Linked DNA regions of Homo sapiens: region 2 is linked to region 1. Evidence: fine-mapped expression QTL. A gene starts in region 1. The other region holds a variant in brackets. All regions are shown on one strand. Distances are between the middles of the regions. Region 1 holds the start of DRC4 (dynein regulatory complex subunit 4). Region 2 overlaps DRC4 (dynein regulatory complex subunit 4).

Region 1 (9,850 bases):
AGAGCGTGAGCCCTCAGAGGACAGGGCCCTGTCTTCCCACTAACTCCCCACCCCAGGCAGGGTACTGCACAGAGCTGCGACCTGTAGGTAAATACCTGTGCACTGATTGAGTCAGGTGTCTGAAGCCCCCAGCCAGTGACTGATGGGCTCAGAAACTGAACCTGCTTTCTCTGCCTTTTAAGCTGCTGGGAAGTCCTCCTTTTTTCCCAAAGGAGGAGGGAAAACATATTAACCTCCACTCCCAAATGCCTTGGGCTCCCACAGCCCTGCAGGGGAAGCAGAACTGTCTCCACTGACAGAAATGGAAATTGAGGCTCACAGGGGCCTGACTGCCCACAGTTCACAGCTGGAAACAGCTCGGAGACCCCCAAGCCCTCACTCCCAACCTCCAGGCTTCCTATGTCCACAAAGCTGCTACTGGGAATACCCAGGAGCCTGGGACTATCAGTGTTAAGAAAGAGCTCTGGTCCCTCCCACAAATGACAAATCAAAACCCAAACCCACCAGCCCTGGGGCATTTGTCCCTATACCTTGGACTGCAGATACACAGGGTGGGTGGACCTGCTCCTCCCGGGGACAGCCCTTCGGGCTCCAGAGGATGCCACTGTGTGCGGCTGGGGGACTGAGAGGTTCCCATGTAGTTCCAGAGCGGCAGGCTGGCCTGCCTGTGCCCTCAGGCACCTGCTGGCTCCCTGGAATGGGAGCTCTAGGAAACCAGGAGGTGGTGGGCTTGGCTGGGCAGGTGGAGGAGTCTGCAGTTTGCATCCAAGTTCCTACCTAGGCAAATGGAACCCCGAAAGCCCTTTTGGAAAAGTCTCTGATCGGGAAGGGGGGAGGTTCTGAGAGCTTTCTTCCCGTTACCGACTCCAAGGTCCTGCAGTAGGGCCTCCACCATCAGGGCAGGGAGCGCTCCACGCGCACCTACCCTCCCCGATGAGCGTGCGCCTGGGCCACTCCCGGACCAGCCACCCTTGCAGCTCTGGAGTCCCCGGCAGGCCGCGCCCGTGCATGCCCCACATCCCCAAGACCCATCTCAGCCCCTCGCCCCTGGCAGGATCCCTGCCCGCGAGTCTACGGCCCTCGCCCCCCGGGACTCGCGGCTGGGCGAACAAAGCGGACGCGCTTGCAAGCGGCCAGCGTCGCCCTCACGCCCCACCGACAGGGACCCCAAACTCCAGCCCCGGAACCCCCCTCCCCCGCTCCCCGGGTCACCGGCTGGCTTGGCTGGGAGGGGGCTCAGGACGAAACTCCGGGCCACCCACCAAGGAGCGTGCCGGGCACGGCTTCCCGGGCCGGGAGCGCAGAGAACAAGGGGGCGGAGACTCGGTCCGTGTGCCCCCAGCCCCGCGCGGGGACCGCGCCCGGGAGGTGCCCCTGGCCCGCCGGACGACCCCGAGCTGCCAAAGGGGTCTTCGCGACTCCCGGGAGCGGCGAAGGGTGAGCCCTGGGGGGAGGGGCTGCGGCTCGCTGCGGGGAAGCGCTGCGCGGGGGTCTCGGGGGCTGGGGCTGAACTCACCTCCGGTGCCGGCGCCCTCCGGGGGCTCCATGCGGCCGGTGCGGTCTGGGAGGGGCACGGGCGACGGCGGCGTCGCCTGGCCCGGGCGCCCCAACAGCTGCGGCAGCGACTCGGCCCCGGCTCCGGGCGCAGCGCATCGGGGCAGCAACCGGGGGGCCGCGGCGGCAGGGAGGAGCCCGCGGGGCGGGGCGGGGCGCGCAGCTGCTCCCGGGCCCCGGCCCCCTCCCGGCGCCCCCCCAGCCGCAGGACAGGTGCGGCCCCGCCCCGGCCCGCGCGCGCCCCCTGCTGGCCCCTGGCCCAGCGGACCCCTCCCCCGCCGACCCTTCCCTCGCGGGCCGCGCCCCGCCGCGGACACCACCGGGACCTGGCTGCGCCCTCCCGACCCCGGCCGGGCGTCCGGGGCTCCTGCGCACTCACTTGGCGGCCGCGCCCGCTGGCGTCCTCTTGTTCTCTTCCAGGTACTTGCGTGTGGGGCGCCGACTGTGTGCGGGCGCCCCTCGGGGCTGGCGAGGGGCACAGGAGGGGCCTGACTCGCGCTGGGTAATGACAGACTCACAGAGCGCCCTGGATGGCGCGAATTAACGCGGGGGGCGGGTGGGGGCGAGGGCGTGTGCTTGGGAGGCTGGAAGGGGCGGGATGGGGGATGGGAGGTAAGGAGAGGGCGGCGGGCCCGGGCTGCAGAGAGCGCCAAGGCAGTTTCGATGAAACTGACCCCCATGTCCCTATCGCCCAGATTCAGCGATTGCCAGCTCCTGGCCTGGGCCACTGCTTCTCTGTCCTCATTCACTTCCCTCCACTGCTGGGTCATTTTGAAGCAAATTATATACACATTAGATCATTGCATTTGTAAGTACTTCAATATTTATCTCTCAAAGAAAGTCCGTTTGCAGGAGCATTGACTCATGCCTGTAATCCCAGCCCTTTGGGAGGCTGAGGTGGGAGCACAGCTTGAGCTCAGGAGTCCAAGGCTGCCGTGAGCTATGATTGTATGTCTCAAAAAAAAAAAAGAAAAGAAAAGAAAAGAAAAAGTCTAGTCTTCATAAACACTCTTGTTAACCCAGCATCCAGGCCTTCACTGAGTTGATGCCGTGGCCTGAGGCGGTTTACCTGGTGGATAGTGGGTGGCAGGAAGCATCAGACATCAGACAGAGGGCAGTCGGTTTGTTTGTATTAACATTTGCTCTGGGATTTTGCAGGAAACTCAGATGCCATTTATCTGGGTTTCTGAGCTGCACAGCTTGACACTGAATGAAAGTATCTTAAGCCACATATGTGAAGAAAAGGCTCTTTTCTAAAAATCTGAACTCGAATTCAATATGAAAAGAACAGGTCGCAGTGGGCCCTGTCGGGATCCCAGGGAGCCGCAATTCAGGGCTCCCTGAATGATTCATCTCTGCAGCCCACACCGACAGACCAGGATTGCTCTTAGCTTGTGAAAAATGAGTACCCTGTCTAGGCTATCCTGAGCTAACCCTCCTATTCTTGCCCTTTTTGCTGAAAGGAATTATTGTTAATACAGCTATTTAATTCAGGACACTCATCCAGACTTCTGAAGCAAAAAGCCAATCAGCATGAAGCTGCTAGCATATTGGTTTTGTGAAGTAAGTGTTAAATTATAATAATTACCCCCACTGTGCTCTCCAGCGTCACTGTCTGACCACCCTGTCCCAGGGGGAGGAGGCCCCTCTCAGGCCAAGGGAGTCTGGCACAGTGATGCTGGCTCCTGGTTGCCCAGGCACAGTGACCAGCCAGACTTCACAGAGGCCTCAGGGCTTACTATAAATAAATCACTGCTTTGTGCAAGCTGAGCCAATGCAGTTCTTCCAACTGGCTGCTCCTCTCCAAGAACAATCAGGACTTAGGTGGGCAAACAGGAAGTCTCTCATCACAGTGGTTCTCAGATTCCCACCACTGTGTGGGTGCCTGAGGCCTGAGCAAACCCAGCTCATGTGGCAACTTCCTCCCCCAGCTGGACAGGAAGACCTAGGTCCACCAGGCCTTCTTTCATTTCTCACACTTTGCCCCCAGCACAACTTTCTACGAGCATGGATTCTGTACTCTTCATCCCCAGACACATGGGAGAACAAGATCTGCTACAAGACCTTTTCTTTTTTTTTTTGAGACAGGGTCTCAGGTCTCATTCTGTTACCTAGGCTGGAGTGAAGTGGTGTGATCTTGGCTCACTGCAACCTCCACCTCCAGGGCTCAAACGATTCTCCCACCTCAACCTCCCAAGTAGATGACCACTTTTTAAGAAGATGTTAAAGATGAGAGCTTAGGGCTGGGCGTGGGGCTCACGTGCTCCCAGCACTTTGGGAGGCCGAGGCAGGAGGATCACTTGAGGCCAGGAGTTTGAGACCACTCTGGGCAATAAAGCAAGACCCCGTCTCTATTAAAAACTTAAAAAAAAAAGCTGGGTATGGTGTCTCACACCTGTAGTCCTGGCTTCTCAGGAGGCTGAGGTGGGAGGATTGCTTGAGCCCAGGAGGTCGAGGCTGCAGTGAGTTGTGATCACAGCCTAGGCGACAGAAGGAGACCCTGTCTCCAAAAAAAAAAAAAAAAAAAAGCACCTGTTTATGACAAACTCAGCTTTCTGGGTGACATAGATGGTTGTATGTAGGTAACAGGGTGGTTTCACGGATGGCAGATTCATTTTAGAAATTGTAAAATGGCTAGCAGTTTTCAGAACAAGAGATTAGTTAGAAAAGGAAAGTGGCAGCTGTTTGTTTTCTGCAGGGCCTGTCGGGAAGCCTCTGGTTTCTTTTCATCCGTGAGGAGTGGGGAGGAGGCCTCTTCAGGAAGAGCAGTTTATTTTTGTGAAAGGAATACTTACTGATTTCAAACATTTGGAACTAAACTGGAACGTATTTTTCTTTCCGATTTCTGCGTTTTTGAGGTGTGTGTAAACCCACCAGCGCAGCAGCTGGGAGGGCCCTTCAAAGGTGGGCGGGTGGGGTGAGTGAGGCCCAGGGGATAGAGTGTTTGCCCAGATTTGAATCTCATTTGGGGAAAGTTTCAGAGGCTTGGGTGGCTGATTGATCATTCCTTCAATGGTCCTTCATCAGCACGTCTTTACTGAGCACGTGCTGTGTGCTGTTCTAGGCGCTGAAGGATAGAAGTGAAGGGTTCCCCCCTCGTGGAGCTTAGGTTCCAGCAATAAGCAAAACATGCCCTGCAGCGAAAGGCTTCTGGGCTGCCGGCGACATTTTCCCAACGTTCACAACCGGGTTCCTTCCGGACGCCCGTCTCTAGGGACGCACTCCCGCCTTTGGCAGGGCCGCTGCCCGGCGGAGTCTCGCGAGGATCTTGTGACTTATCGCGGCATCGCCCAGCGGTTGCCGGGAAACGGCGTGGCTTCCGGGGGCGGGCGCCCTGGTCCCGGAGTCGCCGCTGGGCCTGTCCGCTGGCGTCATGGTGAGCAGGGGCGGGAGCGGGGCTGGGGTCCTCGGCAGGGGCCCGGAGACCTCGGGGCAGGGAGGCCTCGGTACACGGAGACCCTGGGAATGGGAGGCCTGGAGCGCTGGGTTTCTGGAATTGAGAGCTCGGTGCTCTTGTGGGGGTCTCCGTGGGGCAAACTCAGGATGCTCCCGGCCCCGGGGCCTGGCAGCACTCGGGACTGAGACCTGGGCTGTCCAGAGCCCTGTGCTCACAGGGGTGGTCATAGAACGCCCAGGGCCCGGGGTCGGCGGCGCACGGTCCCCAGAAGAGTGAACATGCGTCAAGGGGACTCTCATCCTGGAATGGCAGACTCGGTCTGTTGGATCCCTGGGACCTAGGGTTTCAGCTCACGAGGCTTTGCAGAGCACCAGGGTCCCCATGGAATAGAGCCGGAGGCAGGAATTACCCTAAGACCTTTGGTCTCCCGGATGGAGAGCCTGGGGCACACCAGAGTGGCTAGAGATCCCTCTACACCAAGGAGGCCCGGACAGGTCCAGTGCCCTTGGAGTGCCCAGGGCACAACCTTGGGATACAGGAACCACTGTTCCCTTGGAAAGCCTGGCAGGAGTCAGGCCCAGACCGAGAAGAGGAAGGCGGAGCTCGTGGCCTCATCAGCTCCATGTCTGTCTTTCTCTTGTAAAGGGCTCTCCCTTTGTGGTACAGGAATTGTCAGTAACTCAATTTCTGGGCAGGTGTGGCAGGGTGGGTTTCAGCTGGTGGGGGGAGGAAAGCTCTGGGAGCCCCACCAAGTCCCTGCAGCTGGCTGTGAAGGTCCCAAATGCTAAGTAATGCTGAACCTTCCTCCACTGCCTTCAGGGCTTTGTGATGAGGTAGCCTTCTTGGAGTGGAGGGATTAAAAAGAGAGCAGTACATTACGAATTAAATTTAAGTAGATGGGTTTTCTGACCCAGGAAGGGTCTTCTGAAAACCGACTATGAAAGAAACTACCAAACTAGGCCAGGAGTCTGGGCGCGGTGGCTCACGCCTGTAATCCCATCACTTTGGGAGGCCGAGGCAGGCGGATCATGAGGTCAGGAGATCCAGACCATCCTGGCCAACATGGTGAAAATCCATATCTATTAAACATACAAAAATTAGCTGGGTGTGGTGGCGTGTGCCTGTAGTTCCAGCTACTCGGGAGGCTGAGGCAGGAGAATCACTTGGACCTGGGAGGCGGAGGTTGCAGCGAGCCGAGATCGCACCACCGCACTCCAGCCTGGCAACACGTCTCTTAAAAAAAAAAAAAAAAAGCAGGGTGTAGTGGCTGACGCCTGTAAACCCAGCACTTTAGGAGTCCAAGGTGGGTGGATCACTTGAGGCCAGGAGTTGGAGACCAGCCTGGCCAACATGGTGAAACCCTGTCTTTACTAAAAATACACACACACACACACTCACACACACACACACACAAAATTAGCCGGGTGTGGTGGTACGCACCTATAGTCCCAGCTACTTGGGAGGCTGAGGCAGGAGAATTTCTTGAACCTGGAAGGTAGAGGTTGTGTAGTGGGATTTTTAAGGAATTAGAGAGACCGATGGGGTTCAGGAGGATATTTATTAATTATTTAGGTGCACCGGCCCAGTCAGATTAAAATCCAAAGGACTGAGCCCTGAACAAAGAGTTAAGTTACCTTTTAAGCTTTTCGTGGGGCAGAGGGAGATCTGTGCAGGGGGAAGCATGCTTCAGATGTGAGAAATAAAGGCAGTTGTTCAGTTGAAACATGCATTACATCATTTCTTACTTTTTAAGGAAAAACATGTTTTGCGACTTGAGTTTATCTGCCTAGTGACCTTGCAGCCGCACAGCTACAGAATCAGGGTCTTCACAATGCCTGGGAAGGGAGGAGAGACAAGGCTCACTAGCCGCAGAAAAACAGGCAGTTAATTTTTAAAGGACTCCAGCTCTTTCTCTTTTTCAGGGGGAGTTGGGTTTTCTTATATATAACTGAGTTTCTGCTTACACACTTTTTAATTTCTTTTAATTCCTGTTCCAGTTGCAGTGAGCCAGGATTGCACCACTGCACTCCAGCCTGGGTGACAGAGCAAGACTCCATCTCAAAAAAAACAAAAACAAAAACAAAAAACAAAAAAATGCAACAGCAAACACAACAGCAAACACTAAACACAACCAAACTACTTCTGTTTCTGTTAGGTTGTGGGAATATGGGCCTTGGTCTGTTGGATCCTTGGACCAAGGAATATGGGTGATATTTCTGTTTTCTTCTCATCAGTGTTTTCTAAAATTTCCACATAATATTTTCTCTCTCTCTTTTTTTTTTTTTTTTTGAGGTAGAGTCTTACCCTGTCACCCAGGCTGGAGTGCAGTGGCATGATCTTGGCTCACTGCAACCTCTGCCACCTGGGTTCAAGCGATTCTCCTGCCTCGGCCTCCCGAGTACCTGGGACTACAGGTGCCCGCCACCACGCCTGGCTAATTTTTTTGTATTTTTAGTAGAGACAGGGTTTCACCATGTTGGCCAGGCTGGTCTTGAACTGCTGACCTCAAGTGATCCGCCCGCCTCAGCCTCCCAAAGTGCTGGGATGACAGGTGTGAGCCACTGTGCCTGGCTCCACCTAATGTTTTCATTCAGGACTAAATGAAACATAAATGAAGATAAATGGGCCAGTCGCGGTGGCTCACGCCTGTAATCCCAGCACTTTGGGAGGCTTAGGTGGGCAGATCACGGGTCAGGAGTTCGAGTACAGCCTGGCCAACATAGTGAAACCCCGTCTCTACTAAAAATACAAAAAATTAGCCGGACGTGGTGGTGGGCACCTGTAATCCCAGCTACTCAGGAGGCTGAGGCAGGAGAATGGCTTGAATCCGGGAGGCGGAGGTTGCAGTGAGCTGAGATCGCACCATTGCACTCCAGCCTGGGCAACAGAGCAAGACTCTGTCTCAAAAAAAAAAAAAAAAAAAAAAAAGAGAGTTCAAGACCAGCCTGGCCAACATGGTGAAACCTCGTCTCTACTAAAATACAAAAAAAAATTAGCCAGGCGTGGTGGCGGGCACCTGTAGTCCCAGCTCCTCGTGGAGGCTGAGGCAGGAGAATTGTTTGAACCCAAGAGGTGGAGGTTGCAGTGAGCCAAGGCAGCCTGGATGACGAGGGAGACTCCATCTCAAAAAAAAAAAAAAAAAGATAAATGGATTTAGGTTTTAATGTTTTTAAAAAATAAATAAAATTTCCACATGAAATTTGTAATTTTAAAAACGTTACATAGCTGGGCACAGCAGCAGTGAACTCCTGTGGTCCCAGCTCCTTGGGAGGCTGAGGTGGGAGTATCAGTTGAGCCCAGGAATTGGAGTCTGCAGTGAGCTATGTGATCACACCACTGCACTCCAGCTTGGGCGACAGAGCAAGACTTTGTCTTTAAAAAAGGTTACCGAGACATGTAGACACAGAAAAGCATGGGCTGAAGACTACTGGGAGTAGCAAAGTCAGCAGGATAGGATATGGAAATTTGTTACCTGCTTGAGTGCCCTGTAAATGGGTGGCCAGACAGAACTGCTCCTGGTGTCATGCGTGGTTTCAGCAACTTCCACAAGGGGGTGGGGTTAGAAGGTTCTCTCCCATCCTTGTCAAAGTTGCTAAAACCACGCACGACGCCATGTGCAGTTCCGTCTGGCAGCCCATTTACAGGGCTCTCGTGGTGGGTGCTGTCTGCCCAAGCTTTCTTGACCAGGCTTCTCTGAAGGAAGTTTCTCTTTGAAAGAAAGGAAACTTGTGGTTGTCACAACCGATCGTGGTTATGGAGGCATTTCTCCCTAAGCTTACTGAATGGTGTCTTGCAGGTCTTTTCCATGGTGGTCACCAATGTTGCCGCCAGCATGGTAACATTTGGCAGTGTGGTATTGAGGGTCTTTCCTCTGTTTTGCATCCACAGCAGAGGTCTTTACTTTTTACCAAGGAGTGAGTGGGTTTGGAATGGGTTCCCCCCTCTCTTAGTTTTTGGAGACGGGGTCTCGTTCTACTGCCCAGGCTGGAGTGCGGTGGTGCACCATAGCTCACTGCAGCCTTAAACTTCTAGGCTCAAGTGATTGTCCTGCCTTGGCCTCCCAAAGTGCTGGGATGACACGTGTGAGCCACTGCGCCTGGTCACCGTATACCAAGGAATGAGTGGGTTTGGAATGAGTTCCCTCTCTTTTCTTTTTTTTTTTTTTTAAGTTACAGTTTGCTTTTTGAGATGGAGTCTCACTTTGTTGCCCAGGCTGGAGTGCAATGGTGGGATCTTGGCTCACTGCAGCCTCTGCCTCCCGGGTTCAAGCGATTCTTCTGCCTCAGCCTCCCGAGTAACTGGGACTATAGGCACACACCAGCACACCTGGCTAGGTTTCCTCTCTTTTTTTTTTTTTTGAGATGGAGTCTCACTCTGTCGTCCTGGCTGGAGTGCAGTGGTGTGATCTCGGCTCACTGCAAACTCCATGCCCCAGGTTCAAGCCATTCTCCTGCCTCAGCCTCCCGAGTAGCTGGGACTACAGGCGCCCACCGGCACGCCCGGCTAATTTTTTTTTGTATTTTTAGTAGAGATGGGGTTTCACTGTGTTAGCCGGGATGGTCTTGATCTCCTGACCTCGTGATCCGTCCACCTCGGCCTCCCAAAGTGCTGGGATTACAGGCGTGAGCCACCACGCCCGGCTCCTCTCTTTTCTAGAAGGAATGTTCTCCTTCTCAAAAGGAAGGTTTCTCCTTTGTGCTTCTCCAAATGCAACAACAGGATGTGTGTGTGGTAAAGGGTGGGAACACTCAGGGCAATGATGTGCTCCAGGTGAGCAGAAGGGAGAGAGGTTCCAGAACCTTCTCTGCCAAATGTTCCTGGGAGCAAATCAGAGCCAGCCAAGAAGGGGAAGCTGTTAGAGTCTCTCTTACCCCATTATTTCCACCAAAGGCACCGAAA
Region 2 (9,850 bases), 23 kb after region 1:
ACAGAATGGGGACGGGCAGAGGGTTGGAGAGCCGCCAGGAGGCTGAGTCCACAGGTGGGGCTGGGAGGGGCCGAGGTGACTTGGTGTTTGCACATGGGGGAACGACGGGTCCCGGCCCAGTGGGCGGTGGTGCCTGTGGGACCCTGGTCATCTGGGATGGCCTGGCTCTCAGGGCCTGAGGTAGTGAGGCTGTATAGGAGGGGCCTCACCTGGGCCAGAGGCACTGTGGCCCCGGGACTGAAAACTCATCTTTGTTTGCTCAGCACTGGGCCCAGTGAGCACAGGCAGGTGAGGGAGTGAGGGTCCCACTGTTGGGAGGTGGGGGAGGCGTGTTTCCAGCTCCTGGCTGAGGGCTGCACCCAGCCTGCTGCTAAGCCACCGAAATGAGGGTGAAGAGAGCAGTCGTGGCCTGTGAGGGTCATTGCAGCTGCGCCCACGCGCCAGGGTGAGGATGGAGGATGGAGCTAAATGTGGGTCAACCCCTCCTTTCCTGGTCATTGTTACCTCGACTTCTAAGTGAGGAATCTTCTGGGGAAATGACAGAGGCCCCCGCAGGGACACTGTTTGCTGCTGGCCAGGTGTGAGGGGGCTGCTGTGTCAGTGGGCAGCAGGGACGGCTCTAAAGCCAGGCTGGGCCCAGCAGTGCCCCACAGGCAGGAGCCCAAGAAGTCCCTGCCTCGCCACGTGGTGAGACCCTTGCCCACATCTGGGCGGGGCCAGCGCTGCTGAAGACTACTTTTTTCTGTTACAAAAAAGTGGGATAGCCGGGCGCGGTGGCTCACGCCTGTAATCCCAGCACTTTGGGAGGCTGAGGTGGGCAGATCACGAGTTTGGGAGTTCAAGACCAGCCTGGCCAAGATGGTGAAACCCCGTCTCTACTAAAAATACAAAAATTAGCTGGGCTTGGTGGCGGGTGTAATCCCAGCTATTTGGGAGGCTGAGGCAGAGAATTCCTGGCACCTGGGAGGCGGAGGTTGCGGTGAGCCTAGATCGCGCCACTGCACTCCAGCCTGGGCAACGGGGCGAGACTCCATCTCAGAAAAAAAAGTGAGATAGTACATTCACAAGCCTCAAGAAATTTAAGCAATATGTAGGTGGTGTTTAGTGACCAGTCTCCACAGTGTGGCTGCACGCTGCCTGCCCTCACCTCATCTGCATTTCTTGTGGTCTGGACTGCTCTTTGAGTTTTTTCTTGAGACGGTGTCTTGCTCTGTCACCCAGACTGGAGTGCAGTGGCTCAATCTCGGCGCACTGCAACCTCCGTTTCCCAGGTTCAAGCAATTCTCATGCCTCAGCCTCCTGAGTAGCTGGGATTACACAGGTGTGAGCCACCGTGCCCGGCTACTTTTCGTATAGTAGAGACGGGGTTTCGCCACGTTGGCCAGGCTGGTCTCAAACTCCTGACCTCAAGTGATCTGCCCTCCTTGGCCTCCCACACTGCTGGGATCACAGGTGTGAGCGGCAGTGCCTGGCCTGGACTGTTGCTGGAGAGGCAGGTTGTGCAAGCTCCCAGTTCTCTGCTTCTTCCTTGTTTTCTCTCCACCCTTGGAGACCTTTTTCTGCTGACAACCCTGTGTGGATGGATGCATCCATCAAACCAGGCTGCTATTCGCTGGATCTCTCAGAACGCCCACTGGAGTCCCCAGGCCGCTCCCGTTGCCTCGGCCAAAAGATGAGTCTCAAACTCCCATCACCTCTCTCTCCTCAGGATGTTCTTGAGTCGAAGAACAGCACCATCAAGGACCTGCAGTATGAGCTGGCCCAGGTCTGTAAGGTACGGCTGTGCCCTGCCCTCCCTCAGGGGCACCCCCTCGGTGCCCAGACTGTTCTAAATGCAGACGGTCTCTGAGGACCCCACCTGTGCCCACTTCGTACCTCGTTTGACAAGGCAGCTGTCACTGTCCCCACGTGAGGGTGCAGTCATAGCCGAGAGCATCTGGATTCTGTGTGGTCTGGGGCAGTGCACTGCTGTCTAGGCCATGTCTCTGCTGGGATGGGTGTAGGGGGGGACCTGGACGCTTCCCTGGTCAGCCCCTTCCCCTGGGCAGGGAGTCAGAAGGTGCTGTGCCCACCGGGGAAGGAAACAGACGTCATTCAACAGGGGAAGGGAGGGCGTGAAGAACCTGAGTGGGAAACACCCAGCCAGGGCCCAGAGCCCTCCCAGACCACAGCTCTGCCCTGAGTGTCCCTGCCCTCTGCCTCCGTCTCGTCATTTGTGGAATAGGAATAGTGACAGCCTCTCCCTGTCGTGCTACCTGAGCCAACGCAGTGAAGGTGCTTGGAGCTGTGTCCCACACGGGAAATGACTGATAAGCCTTTGGCTTTATCCTTCTGCACCGTGATGCTCACGCTGCCCCTCCATGGAGCTGCACTCAGCTCTGGTGGTCCTGAGCGTGGGGACCCTCAGCTCCCTGACACTGCCCTGTCTCCACAGGCCCATAACGACCTGCTGCGCACGTATGAGGCAAAGCTGCTGGCCTTCGGGATCCCTCTGGACAACGTGGGCTTCAAGCCCTTGGAAACAGCTGTGATCGGACAGACACTGGGCCAGGGCCCCGCGGGACTGGTGGGCACCCCGACGTAGCTGCCCCCCTGGGGGGCCACAGCCCAGAGAACCAGCCTAGGAACACTCGGGATGACACCCCTTATCACACCAAGGACAGCAAGTTTTTTAGATTTTATCATCAGCAAATGAAAGCTTTTCACATGTTCTTGCCATCCTCTTTCCTGGCTCTGTGGAGGAGAACCACCTGCAGGACCCTCACCCATGGTGTCCCTGTCGCTCCCTTCCCTGGGTGCCGCACGTCCAGCCTGTGTCCAGGCCTACTCCCTGGTCTCACCTCCGACCACAGTCGGCGGCACCTTCTCAGAGTGCCCCGCACTCACCTGGGGGTTGGGGCAGTGCCGCGCTGTGCTGCCTGTCTTCGCGCCACTGTTGTCCCACCGAATGGACAGCTTTGCAGGTGCTGGCACTAACTTCATTGACACCTGAGTCACAGCTGCCCAGTGGGATTCTCCAGGGGGCCGGGACTTCCCTAGGAAGTGGTGAGCCAATGCTCCCTGATGAGCACAAAGCCCGCTCTGTTGAGGGCTGGGTGGGTGCAGCCAGCGTGCGGGAACGGGCAGGCAGCCTCCCGCTGCCAGTCTTCGCTCTAACTCCCTCGGTAGGTGATGTAGGACCAGGGGCACGTGGAACTTCTGGGCCTTGCTGGTGATGGTTAAAACAACCTGAGATGGAGAGGCCAGGAGAGAGTATAAGGGGATAGCAGCAAACCACCTATCTGGCCCCAACACACCTGAGAGAATTCAGCAGCCCAGACTGAGGGTCTGGGATGGGGTGAACCTTCCGCACCAGAGGGACACTCCACAGAAGCCACAGCCCAGTAAGTCAGGCGCTTCTGCGGCGGCTCCAGTGTGGGGTGAGGCAGTGAGGTTAGGCCCAGAGAGCTGGAGTTGGCTCAGATGAAAACCTCTGTCAACAAAGAGGGGATGAATCACCCTTGGCCCAGCCTCCCCACAAAGCCTGACCCTGGGCAGGTGAGTGACGGGTGTGTCCTCGTAGAGTCTATTGCTGCCTGGACACCTTTCTTTTGGGAGCTCAAAGCAAGTGAGCTCACCTACCTGCCACCGCCCAGGACCAGTCTGCCCACTGCCTAAATGATGCCCGGCCAGCAGGACCTGGCCTGCAGATCCCAGTGAGTCATGAGCCTCAGCCCCCTCCAGCCCACTGGGGCTCTCACCTCCACATGTGGGTAGAAGCTTTCCTGCCCCCTCTTCCTCCAGTAGCCCTCAGTGTCGAAGGTGAGCTTGTAGGTGCCTGCCTTCATCTGGTCCAGGACAGTGACCATCTGGGTCTGTGTAGCTGGGGAGAGGATGAGGCTGCAGAGATGGGGACCAGAAGCCCCCCACCCCAGCTTTCCTGGGTCTGCATCCCAGTGGGCCTCAGACACTGCCCTGCCACCTGTCAGACTTGGGTGAGCAGACACAGTGAGGCTGTTAGGTCCTGCAGTTCCAGAGCAGTCTAGGGACACCACTGCCCTGTCTTTAGGAAATCACAACACAGAGAAGCAAAAAGGGAAAAAGTCTCCCACAATTTATCCCATGAGCAAGAACCACTTTATAGCTGGCATATATTTTTCCAGATTTTCTCTATGCATAAGTATATTTGTTTAAAAACTTATAAAGTGGATTATACTATTTGTATTGTTTTATAACCTGTGGTTTTCACTTAAAATATTGTGTATGGCTGGCTGGGCGTGGTGGCTCACACCTGTAATCCCAGCACTTTGGGAGGCTGAGACAGGCGGATCATGAGGTCAGGGTATCGAGACCATCCTGGTTAACACGGTGAAACCCCATCTCTACCACAAAAAAATTAGCTGGGCGTGGTCACGGGCACCTGTAGTCCCAACTCGGGAGGCTGAGGCGGGAGAATGGCATGAACCCAGGAGGCGGAGGCTGTAGTGAGCCGAGATCGTGCCACTGCACTCCAGCCTGGGCGACAGAGCGAGACTCCATCTCAAAAAAAAAAAAAAAAAAAAAAAAAA[A/AAT]GTGTGTGGCTTTCTGGGTCAATAACTACCAAACCTTCACCCACAGAGTGGGCCTGTCCAACTCCACGGAGCGTCTGTGTTGTGTGCCCTGGTCCCTTATCAGGGTTCTGAATAACCGTGGCTTTGCCCATAGTCACTTCTGGAAAACCTCCCATCATTCTTGCCAGCTGGTCTTTAAAGTGTGCGCTTCTGCTGTGATTAGAAAGAGCAGGCCCGAACAAGGTGGCTCACACCAGTAATCCCAGCACTTTGGGAGGCCAAGGTGGGTGGATCACGAGGTCAGGAGTTCAAGATCAGTCTGGCCAAGATGGTGAAACCCTGTCTCTACTAAAAATACAAAAATTAGCCGGGGGTGGTGGCAGGTGCTTGTAATCCCAGCTACTCGAGAGGCTGAGGCCAAGAATTGCTTGAACTGGGTAGGTGGAGGCTGCAGTGAGCCAAGATCGTGCCACTGCACTCCATCCTGGGCAACAGAGAGACTCCATCTCAAAAAAGAAAAAGAGCATAGCACGCTGGGTGTGGTGGCTCACGCCTGTAATCCCAGCACTTTGGGAGGTCGAGGTGGGTGGATCACCTGAGGTCGGGAGTTTGAGACCAGCCTGACCAACGTAGAGAAACCCCGTCTGTACTACAAATACAAAATTAGCTGGCGTGGTGGTGCATGCCTGTAATCCCAGCTACTAGGGAGGCTGAGGCAGGAGAATCGCTTGAACCCAGGAGGCGGAGGTTGCGGTGAGCTGATGCCACGCCATTGTACTCTAGCCTGGGCAAGAAGAGTGAAACTCTGTCTCAACAACAACAACAACAACAAACATAGCGTGTGTGCATGAGGGTAATGAGTCTCTGTGACCCTGCACGGGACGCCCAGCCCACACAGTGCTGTCCTAATTGCTCAGGTGGGACCTGGACCCCTCGTGTCTCAGCTTTTGTGAAGGACCACACGACTGTAGGAGCGGCAGGGTCAGACTCTCTCTGATCCTATGGGCCCAGCCCTGTCCTTCTGGCTGGAAGGGAGGGGGCCTGCCTCTTACGCAGGGGCCATGAGGCCTGGGTGGGTGACATCTGCCTCTGGAAGTGCCGCGCAGAGCCTGTGCCTGGGGCAGTGGGCAAGACCCCATGGAGGCTGAGGGACACACTGCCCCTCAGGCCTGGCTGGGAATCCCAGCACGCACCTGGGCTTGCTACCTCAGTCTTCCCATGTGTAGAAGGGTGAATTATGGTGCTGGCCCACGGGGTGTATGGAGAATGAAAAGAGTGGAAATAATGTCCAGCGTACTGCCTGGCACAAGGTTACCCGTGATCTCAGTGAGCTCTTCGATGCCACCTCAGGCCTCACCTCACCACCACCCCCCGCCCTCGCCCTGGCACAGCTGCCAGGGAGAGGCAGAAACTCACTCCCACCCCATCAGGGTCACAGGGGCCTGAGGCTGGAGGGAGGGAGGAAAGAGCTCCTCTCCTCATCCCTGTATTTTCAGAGGAGGAAACGGGCTGAGAGAAGCAGAAGAGAGAGCCCCTAACCTCACTCCCAACCCGGGCTGAGAGGAGGGTCGGCAGCGGTGAGCTCCGCCCTCCAGCCTCACTGCCTGGCCCCTTAGTCCCCGCCATCTGTCTCAGGGCGGCACTCCCCCTCCCAGGGCCTCTCTCCTACCTTGTCCTCAGCTCCGCCCACTGCTGGCCGTGGTCCTCCAGCCAGCACAAGCGGAGGCAGAGGCCTCTGGCTGGGAGCCCTGAGGCGGTGTCCAGCACGTGGGTGGTCAGTAGGTTGTCCGGAGGCTCCGTGCTGCTGCCCTGGGCCAGGAGAAGGAGGCCAGGGTGAGCCTCTGGAGCCCTGTGCCCGCCTACCCACACCAATCCTGCGTCCACACCAGCTGTGGGGCTTAAACAGCCCTCTGGACAGAGTTCTCCGAGCTGCCCAGGGGACAGGGGGCAAGGGTGACCGGAAGTGCCCAGGCAGCTGATGAGGCACCAAACGTAAACAGCGCAGCCTGTGCCTGCCGACCCTCCCCCACCAATCCCTGTGGCTCCCCTGCCCCACTGGGGACACCCACTGTCCCGCCCACGGCCCCACGAAATGGCCATTTCCCCCCAGGCCCTCAGTTCCAGCCCCTGGGGTGGTTCTCCCGGAACTGGGCTCTCCTCCGCGCCCCGGTTCCTGGGCCCTCGACGCTCAGCCCCACGCAAGCAGCTGAGGGGACAGGAGCCCTGCAGGTCCAGGCCTGGCCCCCTAACCTCCTGGGGGCCTAGGTGTCGCTGGAGCCTCAGCAGCCGCGGGACGGCCCGGGGGCTCATCCTGCCCTGCCGGACTGCGACGCCCGCGGGCAAAGGGAAGGGCGGGGCCGGTCACCCCGCCCCGGACCACCTCGTGCCCACCAGGAGGGCCCCAGCGGGGCTTTGCCCAGGAAGGTGCGCTGGTGGCGAATCAGGGCGCACAGACCTGGGGCCCAGAAGCGGAGTCGCGAGGACCTGCTGGGGGGTGGTGGGGGCGGGGACGGGGGCGGGGCCGCGGTGAGAAGGGGCGGGACCGCGGTGAGAGGGGGCGGGGGGCGGGGCCGCGGTGAGATGGGGCGGGGCCGCGGTGAGGGGGCGGGGCCGCGGTGAGAGGGGGCGGGACCGCGGTGAGAGGGGGCGGGACCGCGGTGAGAGGGGGCGGGACCGCGGTGAGAGGGGGCGGGACCGCGGTGAGAGGGAGCGGGGGGCGGGACCGCTGTGAGAGGGGGCGGGGGGACGGCGGGACGGGGGGATGGGGGGATGGAGGGGATGGGGGCGGGCCAGGTGGGTCCCAAGAAGACCTGCGCGAGACTGGGGACGGCGCGGGGCCCATCTCTCCCCTGGGAGGCTCAGAGGCCCGCAGGTTTCTCATGGAAGCCCCTCACAGGGTAAGTTTCCCCCGACAGGCCATGTGACCTTGCCTCGGTTTTCTCATCTGTAAAATGGGAGCAGTGGTGACTCCTCAGATTGTTGATATGGCTCCGTAGGTGAAGCTCTCTGAGCTGACCTCCCCCCCGCCCTTCCTCCCCGCAACGCGCGGTGGATGAGCGCAGGGTGGAGGCCCGTGCCCTGCAGAAAGTGAGAAAAGCCATAGAACTGCGTGTGCCGGCGAGTATCCATCGTTGTATTAACCTTACGTAATATACAGAGAACACATTTTGACTATATGTTATATATGTGAAGTCCTCATTAGGGAAAGGGAGGCAGGGGAAAGCAAACAGAGAAAGCAGACAAGCTACTAGTCTGCCTTCTTCATGCTCCAGGACACACAGCCCTCCAGACACACGGCAAATAACACATTCTTCCTGCGCCCCAGTCTCACCAGACGCCTGAAGGTTATTAACGCACACTCTCCAGCAAGGCTTTGTTTCTGTGCAGTCAGTTTCTCTTCTGCTGGCTGCCCGTCTTCTCTCTGGCAACGTATTTTCCTACTTTCTCTAGTAAATCTGCCTTCTCTTACATACAACTGTCTTGGTAAATTCTTTTATCCTCAAGCCACTGGCAGTCGTTCACCTGCCACAATGTATTAATGAAATAACGGACATTCTCTATTTAAAATCTGGGAAACGCTGCACCCGCATGATGGTGGACTGGCTGTCCTGCTCTGGGATCTGGGAACTTTTTTTTTTTTTGAGACGGAGTCACACTCTGTCGCCTAGGCTGGAGTGCAGTGGCACAATCTCGGCTCACTGCAACCTCCGCCTCCTTGGTTCTAGCGGTGAGTAGCTGGGATTACAAACGCCTGCCACCATGCCCAGCTAATTTTTGTAGTTTTAGTAGAGATGGGGTTTCACTGTGTTGGCCAGGCTGGTCTCGAACTACTAACCTCGTGATCAGCTCGCCTCGGCCTCCCAAAGTGCTGGGATTACAAGCGTGAGCCACCGCGCCTGGCCGGGAACTTCTTTCTTCCTGTCAAGCTGCATTTCCAGTTCTTGGGTGTTCGGCATGGGTGATTTGTAGATTAAGAATTAGGCCATTCAAAGGCAAGGGAGGAGACCCCTCTCAGCAAAGGTTGGGAGTATTCTGGCTACAACTACCTTGGGACTAGTTAGGAAACATCTATTTGGGATCCACACACACGACATTTGTTGTGGCTTCTGTTTATAGGAGATAATCCTAAAGAGAGGCTCACAACTGTTATGGCAAATGCCCATGGGTGCCAGAGGCCAGAGACAACCAGACTGGCCCCAGTGGGGAAAATTCCATAAACGCCAGGGTACTCTGCAGCCCTTTAAAAAGCATGAGGCCCATTTGTGTGTAAGATGAGAATTCTCCTGGAAAAACAACTAGTGACAAAGGACAAAACAGTGTGTAAGAGGGGGGAAGCTTGTAAATTCGTATCTAGCTTTCACTGAATTGCAAGGATTAGCTAATTCAATCCTCATAACAACCTCCTGGTGTATTGTTGTCCCTACCTTACAAAGCAGGAAACTGAGGCACAGGGAGGCCATATATTGGAATATTTCACAATAGGATACACAAAACAGTCATCCCAGTGACCACCTCTCGAGATAAGCAGTTGCAGATGGAGTATATTTATTTTGACTCTTTAACATTTTGTACTCTGAGAAATTCTAGTGGGCTTGTATTACTTTTTCGAAAGTCTCAAATGTTATAAATAAAGTGACAAAGCAATGATCAGTCCTTTTGGGGGTTGCCACGTAACCTCCCCCCTCTCCTGAGACTCTCCCTGCATAGGAGAAGCTAGTGGCCTATGGAGGGAGAATGGCAGACCAAGGGGTTGTCAGAATTCCTCTCCTGGCCTCTTCAGGGTAACCCCCCACCCGTCTTGCTCCCACCTAGACCAAGAGGGACTGCAGGGTCCCCTTTCCCAGGGAAACTGAGACCCTCAGCCATGCCTGACCTCCTGGCATCTGCCCCTTTCTGAAAACCAGGGTCACCACTGGGATGTCATGTGCTCTAGAAACTTCCTTAATGAGATGAGCAGGCTCCACACCCCAGGGCCTTTTTTTTGGAGATAGAGTCTTGCTGGAGTGTAGTGGCATGATCTCGGCTTACTGCAACCTCCGCATCCTGGGCTCAAGCAATTCTCCTGCCTCAGCCTCCTGAGTAGCTGGGATTACAGGTGTGTGGTACCACGCCTGGCTAATTTTTGTATTTTTAGTAGAGACAGAGTTTCACCATGTTGGCCAGGCTGGTCTTGAACTCCTGACCTCAGGTAATCCACCCACCTCGGCCTCCCAAAGTGCTGGGATTACAGGCGTGAGCCACCGCGCCCGGCCGAACACCCCAGGTCCTTTATGGCACCTTCAGGCAAATTTGAAAAAGAAGCATCATCTTCAAGACTCTTATCT

Evidence for each region.
Region 2: its variant is fine-mapped to the expression of DRC4 in prefrontal cortex (BrainSeq, PIP 0.95).

What each region holds. Positions count from the first base shown.
Region 1 is chr16:90,017,795-90,027,644 of GRCh38, forward strand. DRC4 (dynein regulatory complex subunit 4) reads left to right here and starts at 4,886. Exons shown (of 11, transcript NM_001481.3): 1 at 4,886-4,930; 2 at 9,842-9,850. The coding sequence starts at 4,928. It overlaps DBNDD1 (dysbindin domain containing 1), which reads right to left and starts at 1,662. Exons shown (of 4, transcript NM_001042610.3): 1 at 1,517-1,662. The coding sequence starts at 1,547. RefSeq lists silencers at 1,781-1,920, 2,667-2,961.
Region 2 is chr16:90,040,762-90,050,611 of GRCh38, forward strand. It overlaps DRC4 (dynein regulatory complex subunit 4), which reads left to right. Exons shown (of 11, transcript NM_001481.3): 10 at 1,709-1,774; 11 at 2,435-4,199. The coding sequence ends at 2,584. It also overlaps the pseudogene URAHP. Among named protein-coding and RNA genes, the nearest start is that of GAS8-AS1, 16 kb to the left of the region's middle. RefSeq lists an enhancer at 5,662-6,175. The variant A/AAT (reference allele first, on the strand shown) is at 4,548.